Linked DNA regions of Homo sapiens. The protein of the gene in region 1 interacts with the protein of each later gene in a biochemical or structural test. Each region holds a gene or a part of one and is shown in the gene's direction. Other genes may lie near its edges.

What was found. Proteins that work in one complex are often made in the same cells at the same time.
Region 2: the proteins of TGFB2 (region 1) and PZP form a complex in vitro, tested with the Homo sapiens proteins (one study listed by BioGRID).

What each region holds. Positions count from the first base shown.
Region 1 is NC_000001.11:218,340,310-218,348,342, forward strand, and holds the start of TGFB2 (transforming growth factor beta-2 proprotein isoform 2 preproprotein), read left to right. Parts: upstream 1-5,026; 5' UTR 5,027-6,392; coding exon 6,393-6,738; intron 6,739-8,033.
Region 2 is NC_000012.12:9,156,376-9,163,409, reverse strand, and holds part of PZP (pregnancy zone protein precursor), read left to right. Parts: intron 1-761; coding exon 762-813; intron 814-965; exon of another isoform or gene 966-1,129; intron 1,130-2,293; coding exon 2,294-2,377; exon of another isoform or gene 2,378-2,378; intron 2,379-2,919; coding exon 2,920-3,096; intron 3,097-3,384; coding exon 3,385-3,472; intron 3,473-4,833; coding exon 4,834-4,990; intron 4,991-5,568; coding exon 5,569-5,643; intron 5,644-6,054; coding exon 6,055-6,235; intron 6,236-7,034. UniProt on the Homo sapiens protein: Is able to inhibit all four classes of proteinases by a unique 'trapping' mechanism. This protein has a peptide stretch, called the 'bait region' which contains specific cleavage sites for different proteinases.

The sequences.
Region 1 (8,033 bases):
GTTTATATTAATGCTAAAATTGTGCAAGTAGCATTTTCAAAATGTATCTCTGATGGTGATTTTTAGAATATGCTGCATAGGCAAAGGAAAAAAAAGGTCTTGGAAGTATGCAAAATATAATATCACCACTGTAACCGAAAAAAGGTGAAAGACTAACAGATGTATTCTTACAGATTTAAAGTGGCTTCATTTTAAATAAGGTAATTATCTGGGAGAGTCCTGATTTACCCCTGTTGTCTTAGTGTATCAATGAGTGGCATCCTCTTTACTGCAAAAAATGTTTGGATTTGTGTGACAAATGATGTAGCTACCCTAGTTATGAGAACTTTATTTTCTACTAAGATTTCAAATAATCATCAGTGAGAGTTTGTGGTCTGTAGTCTCCCGTTTTATAAATTATAACCATCTATATAGCTGTGCTTTTCAAAATACTTACATACTTAGGCTTTTAAAAATACTTATTTACTAATTTTTCCCTCTATCATAAACTACACTGAGGTTTTCTTTTTTTATGCAATTACTATTGACCCTTGGTTTTTATTTATTTATTTTTTTTTTAATTGCAGGCTAATCGAGGCAGCAGAACGGCATATTTGTTTGAAATGTAGGTTGGTAATTTTGGCAGTGGAAATTTAGACATTTGGAATTTTACCCAATCTATGAAGCCCACTGAGATGATGACAGACACATAAATTCATTTAAAGACCATGTATCTTTAAAAAAAAAAAAAAAACTTTTGTTATATTATACTCATTTTAATTATGAGAACACAGTCATATTTTTCTCTATCACTCACCTTCTCTTTTTCTTTCTCATCTTTTGTGTTTATTTTTAGTTGGCCAAAACACTCTCTCCATTTCTCCCCAGCAACCTCATTCTGGTTTCTTGCTTTGTGAAGTCTATCTGTGAACTTCTGTGGTGACAGAGTAAATGAAGGAGGAGTAGAGATTCTGTAAAGGTGAGTGTCAAGTACTGCCCTAAAAAATAAGGAAAATTCTGCTGCTGGTTTCTTTTTGTCAACATTAGGATTTTGTTAAGCACTTATCCATAGCGTTATGCTGTGTCCCAACTATTACCATATGTTCATTTATTTATATCAGTTACTAAATGCTATCTTAGTGGGTGAATTTCACCAGGGGCAAGAAACCAGAGGCTGCAGCTACAGGGATGACATAGCACAGGCCACTGTGAGACTGCCTCCCAAAGAAAGACTTTCCTGGAGAGCTAAAATTGTAGAGTTATGAGTGGCCCAAAAGCCACAAGCAGTAATCAATCAACTAATCATAATTCCAAAGGGTGAGATAATGTTCCCACAGTGTATCATTAGTGTGATGAGTTTATCTCTTTAAAGCCTCACAACCTGCTGATATGCTGTGGTTTTTCTTGGTCCTATCTCTTTATCTTTTACCACCTCTGATCTCTTTAAACCCACCCTGTTTCCATTTTCCTCCCCGCCCATTGTTTCCTCATTTTTCCTTAACACTTCTTCCTTAGATTAACCTTTAAATACAAATGGAAATAATAATCGGATTATTTTTTGTAAGGAAACCACCTTTCTGTTTCATTATTCATAACTAGAATAATGAAATAAAGCTGTTTATAGAAATGCATCTAGAACATGAGACAAAATTGATATAGACCAAACATTGTTCTTGAATAGTGGTATCAAATATAAAATTATAAATAAAATCTTAAAAGACTTTTGGTGTATTTTCATATTAAAGGGTTATTTTGCATTTATCAAGTATCACTATTTGGGGGGAAATGTAATCAATTACCGTCGTTCCATGTATTTCTTTTTTTCACCTCCTGATTTTTCATGCTTGAAACCGTTCTGGAAAGCTTCCAGAATTGTTACAAATGAAGTTATGCTTTGGTCAATGTTAGTAAGGACCTATGATCCATAGGCGTAAAACTCCAGGACAGGGATGAGTAGTTTTGTTTTCTTCAGCCTCTTGTAGAAATCCCACATTACTTAAGTGAATAGACCCATTGATGAGTGGAGAATGGCTAAGAGTGGAAACAGCTCCACTCTCTACCTCTGTAATTTCAAAACAAAAGATTCCATTTGAGGGCTTTAATAAGAGACTTTAATCGTGAATGCTTAACTGAACTTTGATAGTCATTTAGCATTTTATTCACCAAAAGTGTATTTTCTTGTCCTTCCCTCCTATAATTACTGGGGGCAAAATACCATAATATTTAAAATGTGCCTACAGAAACTACTAGGAGGCAGAACTAGAAGCAAATTCTTCTTGGGTTCTTTCCTGGCTTTTCAGAGAGAGCGAGAGAGAGAGAGAGAGAAGGCCAGATATTTTTATTATAAATTCCTTGACAGAAATAAAGACATGATAGGATAAGAAACTCACAGAGTCAGTGAGTAACTTGTTCAGGATCACAAAGCCAGAAAGTGACAGAAATCTGAACCCAAAAAACCATGACTGGAGCCTGCCCTTTAAACCACTGTGCTCTCCTGCCTCCTTGAAGTAATCAAGATGGGTGTATATCATTTAAATACCCTTTTACCATGAAGACTGTAGAGACCCCGGCACATAAGACCTCCATTAAATATAGAGATGAAAAGGCATTATAAGAGCCATTTAATAGAAGAAATGATTCATTTACGGTTACCAGGGAGACAGCTCTAGCAATCTTGCCGGTTAGGTCTTCAAAGAACTGATCATTTGAGAGGTGGAAAGGGGCTCCTCCTCTCCTGCTATACTCACTTACTGCACTTACCCATTCCAGAAGCTTTTACCAATACCTCCCGTCTTACCCTCCTGGGCTTTGGGGAAATTAAAGTAGCCTCTTATGAGTAAGTCAGGGGTCTCAGGTCTAAGGAGTTGTTAAGTGAGCAATAGGTACTCAGTAAACTAAGTATTATGAACAAAAGTGTGTATGTCTATGTCAGGAAGAGGGGTGGCCATCAGAATTTATGGCTTGCGCTGTTTTCCTAGAAGTGATGTAAATGAACTTTTGCTACTCTATCCACACTCTAATCTGAATCTACTTAAGGTGCATCAGTGTCTGTACCAAGAAGGTTGTCTATAAACATGAAAGATGCTCACTGGCTTGTGGAAGCTGAACCTGTATCCTCAGCAAAATACAGTGATAGCTAATTCAGGTAACCAGCCATATTCCACAGCAGCATCTTCTCTCAGTAGCTCTGGTTTGGAGCTCCTGCTCTGTGTCTATAATGGCCACAGGTGTAAGAATATTCACTTTTTGTCCAATCTGTAGAGCTAGCCTACTGCAGTTCTCAAACTGAACTCAGAGGGAGGACCTAACTGGATGAAACTACTAGTCTGACAGTAGCGCCTCTTGATTATCTTTTTCTTGGGCTACTGGGATGGTAGCTTTGCTTCAACTCAAAACTGGTATCAAGGAAAGGAACCTGCTGGTGCTGATTTATACATAATTTTTAGAATTATTCAGAAGTGGGTTGGAACAATTATTTTATTCCAGAGTTTTTCAATGTGTGATAATGGAAAAAATTCTGTATTCAAGGGAGTTTGGAAAATGCTGGGTTAAAAGAGTGAAAAGGTTTTCTCTTCTACAGGAGTTTCAGAGCCTTTAACATGATAATGTTCCAGAATGAGGAATCTAAGAGGACAGGAGAGTACCCAGTATCTCCCAAACTTGTTTGACTCCAGAATTCCTGTTTGTCAGAACATATTCTGGGACCATTGTTTCTCAGAAGTACATAGTAGGTAAGAACATAGTGGATCCTGACTGCAAAAATCCAGCTCTACCACTTACTGTGGTCTCGAACAAAGTACTTAACTTCTTTGTACCTCAGTCTCCTCATCTGCCAGATATGGATAATAAGACCCACTTTATAGGTTCATAGTGAAGATTAAATGACCATACACAACACACATCAAATTACTAAGTGTAGTATATGTTAGCTATTATTATTTTATTTATTCAGTGCTCTACTAATAACCTAGGCCCCATACACAACTGAAGTATAAATTCCAAAAGTGATAGAAAGTTCTTTGTGACTTTTCTGAACTCAGGAACATCTGAAGTAGAGAACAGTATAGAGATCTTGGGTTTGGGAGTACATTCAACAGAGTTTCCAGTTTAAATCATCTGTCTGGTCAGTATGGCTGCAGAGTCATGCCGAAATGAAAATGTTGACTTTGAGTAACTAAAGGTAAAATAAAAGAAAAAGGGAAGGTGGAACAGTGGTAAGAGTTATTCTTGTATTCATCTAATTTAGACTTAGTTGAAATTGAAAATGTCAAGTTATGAGTAGTGTAGAACAGTAGACATCAAACACTTAAAATTCCAGCTTCCTGGATTAATGCTATGGAAAGAATGAAGTTGGTTGATAATGTTTAGCCTAGCAAGAAGGTGAAGAAGAAAGCCATACAAGAAGTGGCTTAGGCAGCAAATTATAAAGGTGACCATTCATTCAAATCAGTAAAACAAACAAGTATACCTTATTCTTTAGGTAAAATTGATGGATCTCTGTTTTCCAGCAGTTCACAAACAGAGGGGTACATTGTAAACAACAAACTAACAAAATAAATTCTGGGATGGCAACCTGCTAAGGTATCCCAGAAAATAAGAGGTAGGACATGAATTTAAAAGATTGGAAGGTATGTCTTCAGTACTGGCCTGGCCCTGAGTAGACTAGTGCTCCCTCCCATAGGGGTGCGTGTGCACACATAATACAGGAGGGAAGCCTTCCCTTCTAGAGCAAGTGATTCAGCTTGGGAGGCTGTGACTGAGCTACACTAAGTAAAAACGGGAGACTTGATTGTCCTTCCTTCAACAGACCTGTCCAAAATGACTGGAAAGTAAATACCGTAAATCACTGTTGTCAGGGCGCACATTCCACCTCCTTCCTCCCTTACCCACAGCGGTCCTCATTTCCACACTCCCTCAACGGTTCGGGGAGAGCTCGTGGTCTAAGTAACGAGAGGACTTCTGACTGTAATCCTAGCACGTCACTTTGTTGAAGGCAGACACGTGGTTCAGAGAGAACTTATAAATCTCCCCTCCCCGGCAAGATCGTGATGTTATCTGCTGGCAGCAGAAGGTTCGCTCCGAGCGGAGCTCCAGAAGCTCCTGACAAGAGAAAGACAGATTGAGATAGAGATAGAAAGAGAAAGAGAGAAAGAGACAGCAGAGCGAGAGCGCAAGTGAAAGAGGCAGGGGAGGGGGATGGAGAATATTAGCCTGACGGTCTAGGGAGTCATCCAGGAACAAACTGAGGGGCTGCCCGGCTGCAGACAGGAGGAGACAGAGAGGATCTATTTTAGGGTGGCAAGTGCCTACCTACCCTAAGCGAGCAATTCCACGTTGGGGAGAAGCCAGCAGAGGTTGGGAAAGGGTGGGAGTCCAAGGGAGCCCCTGCGCAACCCCCTCAGGAATAAAACTCCCCAGCCAGGGTGTCGCAAGGGCTGCCGTTGTGATCCGCAGGGGGTGAACGCAACCGCGACGGCTGATCGTCTGTGGCTGGGTTGGCGTTTGGAGCAAGAGAAGGAGGAGCAGGAGAAGGAGGGAGCTGGAGGCTGGAAGCGTTTGCAAGCGGCGGCGGCAGCAACGTGGAGTAACCAAGCGGGTCAGCGCGCGCCCGCCAGGGTGTAGGCCACGGAGCGCAGCTCCCAGAGCAGGATCCGCGCCGCCTCAGCAGCCTCTGCGGCCCCTGCGGCACCCGACCGAGTACCGAGCGCCCTGCGAAGCGCACCCTCCTCCCCGCGGTGCGCTGGGCTCGCCCCCAGCGCGCGCACACGCACACACACACACACACACACACACGCACGCACACACGTGTGCGCTTCTCTGCTCCGGAGCTGCTGCTGCTCCTGCTCTCAGCGCCGCAGTGGAAGGCAGGACCGAACCGCTCCTTCTTTAAATATATAAATTTCAGCCCAGGTCAGCCTCGGCGGCCCCCCTCACCGCGCTCCCGGCGCCCCTCCCGTCAGTTCGCCAGCTGCCAGCCCCGGGACCTTTTCATCTCTTCCCTTTTGGCCGGAGGAGCCGAGTTCAGATCCGCCACTCCGCACCCGAGACTGACACACTGAACTCCACTTCCTCCTCTTAAATTTATTTCTACTTAATAGCCACTCGTCTCTTTTTTTCCCCATCTCATTGCTCCAAGAATTTTTTTCTTCTTACTCGCCAAAGTCAGGGTTCCCTCTGCCCGTCCCGTATTAATATTTCCACTTTTGGAACTACTGGCCTTTTCTTTTTAAAGGAATTCAAGCAGGATACGTTTTTCTGTTGGGCATTGACTAGATTGTTTGCAAAAGTTTCGCATCAAAAACAACAACAACAAAAAACCAAACAACTCTCCTTGATCTATACTTTGAGAATTGTTGATTTCTTTTTTTTATTCTGACTTTTAAAAACAACTTTTTTTTCCACTTTTTTAAAAAATGCACTACTGTGTGCTGAGCGCTTTTCTGATCCTGCATCTGGTCACGGTCGCGCTCAGCCTGTCTACCTGCAGCACACTCGATATGGACCAGTTCATGCGCAAGAGGATCGAGGCGATCCGCGGGCAGATCCTGAGCAAGCTGAAGCTCACCAGTCCCCCAGAAGACTATCCTGAGCCCGAGGAAGTCCCCCCGGAGGTGATTTCCATCTACAACAGCACCAGGGACTTGCTCCAGGAGAAGGCGAGCCGGAGGGCGGCCGCCTGCGAGCGCGAGAGGAGCGACGAAGAGTACTACGCCAAGGAGGTTTACAAAATAGACATGCCGCCCTTCTTCCCCTCCGAAAGTAAGTACTTATTTTGACTTCCATCCCCTGAGGTTTAGCTCTGCCCGGAGCTCTCAAAACCGCAGCAGCTCCCGGGATCGCCCTTCCCTCTCGCGGTTCCCGTTCGCTCTTTTCCCGTTCTCCTGTCCTTCACCCCACCACCTCCTTTTCAGTTGTATGCTTGAGGCCATCAGGCTTTAAAATGTTTACTTTCTACTTTATTTTCTCCATCTTTCCCTTCCCCCTAACAATTCGGTGCTTTAAAAGGCGTTATTCTCTTTTTCTCTTCCCTGAAGTTCTTTAGTCGGCCACCAGCTAGGAGTCAGCCCCACTCTGTCAAACTAGAGGTGCTCCCAGGGGCAGAGTTAAACTGAGGAATCTTGGTAGGTTTGTTTTCTTTGCTCCGATTGGCGTGGAGCGCGCCGAACTGGTGCACGAAGGGTTAAAAAAAGTGTCTCAAAACTAGCCTCTCCGGAAGGCGCCCCCTTTCCGTGCTGACCTATCAGCTGGTTCCCCAAGCCTTCTCTATTGTCTCTAACTACCCTAAAAATGTCAGCATCGCCGAGACAAAACCCGGTTTGGAGACCCCTCGAGAAACCTACCTGGCCCTCAGTCCTTGATGTATCATTTGCTATCACTAGGTGTTTCATTACCCAAAGGCAAAATCCTATAACCACGTTCCCTTTTCACTTAACCTGGAGTGTAGAAAGGACAACTCCGTTTCTGACTGTGTTTTAAAAGGTTTTGTTCACGTTATTTTTCAGAATACACTCAAACCTGCCTTCTTCACATCTCCAGTGTAGCAGATCATTTTTCTTACGGGTCTGTTATCCTGCTCCTGCCTTTTCGTAGGCTTCCTGCAGTTACTTCAATGCATTCCTAAAACTCAGAGTAGACGACAGCCGTATTTTTTTTTTTTTTTTTTACTGGCTTCTCTGAGAACAGTGTCCTCAAAACCAGCTGGCATACAGTAGCAATAGGAGTGAAATGATTTATTGCAGAGGAAGGGAACAGACAGTGTAGAATGATTTCAGAGTTCTTAAAAAAAGAAAAAAAAGAAAGAAAGAAAGAAAAGGGGCAGCAGCATCCACTTGATACCTGAGAGGGTTAAATACCAGGAAGAAGAAAAAGAAAAGTGGGGGCGGGGTGGGGGGAACCTCTTCAACATTTGTGTATTCCAAATCCCAAGTCATAAACTTTTCATTGGTTGCTCATTTCTCTCCTCCCCTTTCCATGCCCTGTATACTTGCTGGCTGCCTTTGCAAAGTCTCTGTGTCTTGCCTAAATAGATAATATAGCCATCTTGGTAATTTTCT
Region 2 (7,034 bases), on another chromosome or scaffold:
GCGATCTCGGCTCACTGAAAGCTCTGCCTCCCGGGTTCATGCCATTCTCCTGCCTCAGCCTCCCGAGTAGCTGGGACTACAGGCGCCTGGCTAATTTTTTTTTTTTTTTTTTTGTATTTTTAGTAGAGACGGGGTTTCACCATGTTAGCCAGGATGGTCTCAATCTCCTGACCTCGTGATCCTCCCTTCTCGGCCTCCCAAAGTGCTGGGATTACATTGAGCGCAATTTCTTGATCTCCACCTCTCTCCTAAGATTCACATATCTCTCATACCCATTAGCTTTGATTTACTGCCCTTATTATCTCTTCCCATTTTCTCTCTACCACCCTCCCTGGTTCTTCAATGTTTTATGGATTTGTAATAATTCAATAACAAGTAGGATGTTATGTTCTCACTTATAAGTGGGAGCTGAATGATGCAAACACATAGACACATGGAGGCGAGCAACATATATGGGGCCTGTCTGAGAGTGGGAGTGACAGAAGGGAGAGCATCAGGAAGAATAGCTAGTGGATGCTGGGCTTAATCCCTAGGTGATGGGATGATCTGTGCAGCAAACCACCATGGCACACATTTACCTATGTAACAAACCTGCACCTCCTGCACATGTCCCCTTGAACTTAAAACAAAAGTTGGGAAAAAAAGAGTAGGATGGTAAACATCATTCGTGTAAACCCTACCCATCAAAGAAAGGAATCCATGTGGTTCTCTTGTCACCAGGATGTTTCTATCTTTTCTCCTTTTCTTTCCTTTCATCCAAGGCTGAAGGTATTGAGCAAGAAAAGACTTTCAGTTCTATGACCTGTGCCTCAGGTAAGAGTCCATCTTCATAATCATAGTGAGATCAAAACCACAAAGGGGTATAAACCTCAAGTTACAATGCACATTCATTTTATCTCCCAGTTTTCAGAGTGTTCCATGAAAGTCAGCATAATACTAAATATTTCTTTATGTATGTTTTACAGATGAAGACATTGAGCCCAAGAGAGCAAGTTAATGTGACTCAGGTGGTACAGACAGGACTAATACCTGGGCTTTCTTGGTTCATACGTAGCCCTTTTACCTGGATAGCCCAGTGGCTGCTCACTGACAAGCCCAGCTGCAGAAGCTTAGAGTGTCCCAGGATGAGGTAGAAAGAGAGCAGGGTTAGCCGGGTGTGGTGGCTCACATTTGTAATCCCAGCATTTTGGGAGGCTGAGGCGGGAGGATGACTTGAGGTCAGGGGTTTGAGAACAGCCTGGCCAACATGGTGAAACCCTGTCTCTACGAAAAAAACAAAAATTAGCCAGGCCTGGTGGCGGGCGCCTGTAGTCCCAGCTACATGGGGGGCTGGGGCACGAGAATCGCTTGAGCCGGGCAGGGGGAGGTTGCAGTGAGCCGAAATCACACCACTGCGCTCCAACCTGGGCAACAGAGTGAGACTCTTAAAAAAACAAACAAGCAAACAACAACAACAACAAAAACTAAAGACAGCAGGGTCATGATAAGTTTGAATCCCAAGAGATAGTCTCTAAAACAGCTGCTGACAAAACATATAGCATTTCCTACCCATCTCACTAAAAATGTGTGTTTTCCGTGTAGAAAATAATTTACATTTAAGTTCATCATATCATTAAGAAGTAGTTGTAGCTTTTATACAGAACCGCCACATTATTAGTTCTATGTCCACAGTGTATACAGCACTGTATTTGTCATTTGAGAAGGACTAATTTAAGGTATATTCATGTTATCTATTTATAAACATGGGAATCCATTCAAATATAGTGTAAGGGAGGCAGTAAAATAACTTGTATTATCATGGTTATAAGTCTTAATATTGCTACAAAAGTGGAGAGCGATAGTTCCCCCACTAAGTCTTAGGCTTCTTTTAGAAAGCTACTGAGCACAGCCATGCAAAAATATAGTTAAATGAGAAGAGGAAGGACTCTGGAAGTCACACAGTGCCAAAAGCAATTAGACTATCAAAGGTAGTCTCATCATTAAGTCAAATTCTTATTCCTTGCACCCAGAGTTCCACAAGGAGATATAATAATATTACTGCTAACTCTAATAATAAAATAACTGCAATAATAACAATTGCTCACATTCGTTGAAATTGAATATGTTGCAGATACTGTTCTGAATGTTTTACATGTGTTTTTTCCTCAAATCATCACAATTTACCCAAGGTCACAAAGCAGGGCCAGTACCATATCCAGGGAGTGTGGCTCTGAAGCTCTCACTACATTATAATCACTAAATTATATTGTAATCATAGATGTCCTCCTTTAACATGGGCTGTCTGTTTCTAAAGGTGCTAATGTGTCTGAGCAGTTGTCCTTGAAGCTCCCATCAAATGTGGTCAAAGAATCTGCCAGAGCTTCTTTCTCAGTTCTGGGTGAGTCACCTTCCATTTAGTAAACCTGGGCCAAAAGAGTTGCCACTGTACATCTTATCTACGTATTTGTATTTGAATTATCAAGTTCTTGATAGCTGCTATTCTTTTTTATTTTTTTGAGATGGAGTCTCGCTCTGTCGCCCAGGCTGGAGTACAGTGACGTGATCTCGGCTCACTGCAAGCTCCGCCTCCTGGGTTCACGCCATTCTCCTGCCTCAGCCTCCCGAGTAGCTGGGACTACAGGCGCCCGCCACCACGCCCGGCTAATTTTTTTGTATTTTTAGTAGAGACGGGGTTTCACCGTGTTCACCAGGATGGTCTCGATATCCTGACCTCATGATCCGCCCGCCTCGGCCTCCCAAAGTGCTGGGATTACAGGCGATAGCTGCTATTCTTATTAGGATTCTGGAAGTCACACTCTGTGTATATAACTTTTCTCTTACCTAAATGATAGACTCTGAATATAAAGGCCATTTTTGTTAATAATGTTGGCTATTTATGAACTGAAATTATTCTGACATCTAATCTTTCACATTCCCCAGGTGACATATTAGGTTCTGCTATGCAAAATATACAAAATCTCCTCCAGATGCCATATGGCTGTGGAGAACAGAACATGGTCCTATTTGCTCCTAACATCTATGTCTTGAACTATCTGAATGAAACCCAGCAGCTGACGCAGGAGATCAAGGCCAAGGCCGTTGGCTATCTCATCACTGGTAAGTGAGACAGAGAAAAATTTACTTTGTTACTCTAATGAAACTTTTCCCAATTAAGCTTCAGTTATATCATCAAATATTAACCCATGATGATAATTTTTATGAAAACAACAATCTTCCCACACTCTAATAGGATGTTGTGTTTGATCTATCCATAACATTCACAAAACTATGGCAGATCACAGAAGGTCATAAAATGTCCATGGCGCCTGGATGCATGAGCCTAAACATATGGATGGCCTGCCTTTCTTTAATGCTTCATGAACAATCTGAAGCCTTCCATTTCAGGTTACCAGAGACAGCTGAACTACAAACACCAAGATGGCTCCTACAGCACCTTTGGGGAACGATATGGCAGGAACCAGGGCAACACTTGGTAAGAAAGAAAATCTATTCTGAGTTTCAACTATGAGTTCAGAACGTGCACATAGATTACCTGTCTTAGTCCATTTTCTGTTGCTTATAACAGAATACCTGAAACTAGGTAATTTATAAAGAAAAGAAATTTATTTCTTATAGCTATGAAGGCTGATAAGTCAAAAGTCTAGGGGCCGCATCTAGTTGAGAGTCTTCTTGCTGGTGTGGACTCTGAGGAGTCCCACGGTGATGCAGGGCATCATATGACTAGAGGATTGAATGGGCTCACTTGGGTCTCTCCTTCTCTTCTTTTCTTTTCTTTGTTTTACTTTGTAGAGACTGGGCTAGCATCTCCTCCTCTTCTTATGAAGCCACCAGTCCAACTGTCATGATAGCCCTTTAATCTAGGAATAGATTCATCCATTCATGAGAGCAGAACCCTCATGAGCCAATCACCTCTTAAAGGCTCCACCTCTCAATACTACCACATTGGGGATTAAGTTTTAACATGAGTTTTGGTGGAGAAACAATTTCTAAACCATAATGTTACCTTATTTAATTCTTATAGCTACCCTGGGAAGTGAGAGTTATTAGCTTCATTTTACAGAGGAGAAAACATATTCAGTGTGGATAAATAAATGTGTCAGGAGCAAACATCTAATAAGTGGCAAAATTGAGAACACTTTTAGGTTGATTTTTTTAATCCAATATACCCAGACCCTCTTCCTTCTCATGTTGCTAAGGGAACATTATAGGTTTGTAACTTGCCCCCTTAAATTGTTGCTCAGCCCTAAGAGGTGTTAGAAAAATGCTAGAATAAAACCACAACCATTACTGGCAGAGCATACCTTACTACCTTCTACTAGATGATATCCTTTCTCTCTCTCTCTTTGTAGTTTTACCACACAGGCAAACACAGGGGAAAAAAGTGGAAGGGCAGGATGATGGAGGGAAATATTTACTGAAGCAGAACATTAGAAGTTAGCTGATTAGAGTTAAAACTACAGAAAGTAAGCTAAGAAATCTAGGAAAGGAAATAAATTCATAGAGCCCACAGTGTAAAAGCAAATGACTTAGTTAACCAACCAAGAAAACTGGAAGGAACCTGAACCTCTGAAGTGGCATAGAAATGCTTTAGGAAGCAAGGACAAGCTGGTAATGAATTGAACAACATGTGGCAGCAAAAAAAAAAAAAAAAAGAAAAGAAAAGAAAAAAGAAAAAGAGATGTCTAAGCTAAAAAGAAAAAGTCTCCAAACTCTCAGTAACAGCTGATTGACTTTCTTGGGTGCACACTGTGATGGGGGAGCCTGTGTGTACAAAACAGAGCAGTAAAGTGCTCAATGAAAAGAGCCTCAGCACTGCATTTTTCCTCCCCCTAGGCTCACAGCTTTTGTACTGAAGACTTTCGCCCAGGCTCGATCCTACATCTTCATTGATGAAGCACACATTACCCAATCTCTCACGTGGCTCTCCCAGATGCAGAAGGACAATGGCTGTTTCAGGAGCTCTGGGTCACTGCTCAACAATGCCATAAAGGTGAACTGTTCCACAAACTTCTGAGCCTGACACACATCAACATAACATCCCCCAGGGGTGAAGGGAGGAAGGAGGCACAAGGAAATTGCAAAGATGAAGTCCTGGATGATGTGGGATGGCATCAGGGAAAGAGTATTACACTTTCTACAGAGAAGGAAGAAATTGGGCCAGATGCAGTGGATCACACGTAGAATCACAGCACTTTGGGAGGCCAAGGCAGGTGGATCACTTGAGCCCAGGAGTATAAGACTAGCCTGGGCAACATAGCAAGACCCAGTCTCTACAAAAAACATTTTACAAAATTAGCCAGGCATGGTGGCCTGTGCCTGTAGTTGCAGCTACTTGACAAGCTGAGGCAGCAAAATTGCTTGAGCCTAGGAGCTTGAGGCTGTCATGTGTGATAGTGCTACTGCACTCCAGCCTGAGCTACAGAGCAAGAACCTGTCGAGAGAGAGAGAGAGAAGGAAATGGTATACTTTGAATGGAAACAGATACTGAGGAGCGTTTCCATCAAACAACAGAAGAGAATATACTAACACTTGGCACTGGAATTAATCAAATCAATGTTGTATTCACAGGGAGGTGTAGAAGATGAAGCGACCCTCTCCGCCTATGTTACTATTGCCCTTCTGGAAATTCCTCTCCCAGTCACTGTAGGTACCAGCTCAATCCCATTCCCTACCATGAAAACTGTAGATTTGCTGTCTGGAATGCCACCCTGCTAAGGGTTGAGTCTCAAGTATCTTTTGGTTCAATGATGAGGGATTTCTCAGACTGATAAGCTCTTTGGTTGATGCATTAAGAGAGATTTACACTTGCCCAGTAATGCCCATAGACTATGTATCAAAACCAATCCTAAAAACAGGTTCTCTAGTCTTATTCTTTAAGACTGAACTATAAAGGGAAGAGATCGAAATATTTTTCTATTTAAATATGATGAATATCTAGCTGTCTGCCTATCTGTCTGAAATCTATTAATAACATCTGACTGTCAATATCCAGCTCTCAGCTTGCTCTGCCCTCTATTCACCCTAGTTTGACACAACCACATTTTGCCTTTACAGAACCCTATTGTTCGCAATGCCCTGTTCTGCCTGGAGTCAGCCTGGAATGTAGCAAAGGAGGGGACCCATGGGAGCCATGTCTACACCAAGGCATTGCTGGCCTATGCTTTTTCCCTACTGGGAAAGCAAAATCAGAATAGAGAAATACTGAACTCACTTGATAAGGAAGCTGTGAAAGAAGGTGAGAGCACTTATAAGTGGGAGCTGAACAATGAGAACACATAGACACAGGGAGGGGAACAGCACACATTGGGGCCTGTCTGGGAGGTGCGGAGAGGGAGAGCATCAGGATAGATAGCTAATGCATGGGGGACCTAATAACCAGGTGATGGGCTGATACATGCAGCAAACCACCATGGCACACCTATGTAACAAACCTGCACATCCTGCACATGTACCCCAGAACTTAAAATAAAATAACATTTAAAAAATAAATAAATAAATAGATAAATAATAAAAGTTTTTTTAAAAACTGTGCAAAAAAAGGTGAGAGCAAACAGCAAATGGTACCAAATTTCCATTTCCATTTACACTGATTCTACAAAAAGAAGAAATATATTCCTTCTGAAATCCACAAGCTTCATCTGTAATTCCTTAGCCAAGTCATACATTGTGAGATCAGAGCACCTCTTATAAAACTGTCTTCTCTGGGATTGCATATGTTACACAGAGCAGAACATAATAGACATAATGCTGCAGATAAATAATGCAGTTTTATTTCTACTTGCTAAAACCAATATAATAGACAAATAGATTCATTTTCTCATGATTTCTCTCTACTTACTTGAATGAAAAGAGGTACAACAGCTCTTCCATACCCCCTAAATTCCCACCCAATGCCGTCCTGGCTGCACCATGCTCACTTCATGCTCTGGGCTTCTCCTAAGCTAGTGCTGCTATAGTCTCCTTTCAGCTACCATCATAATTATCTACCAGGATCTCATCAGCCACGCTGAGATGTTCTCTGACATTTACAAGAT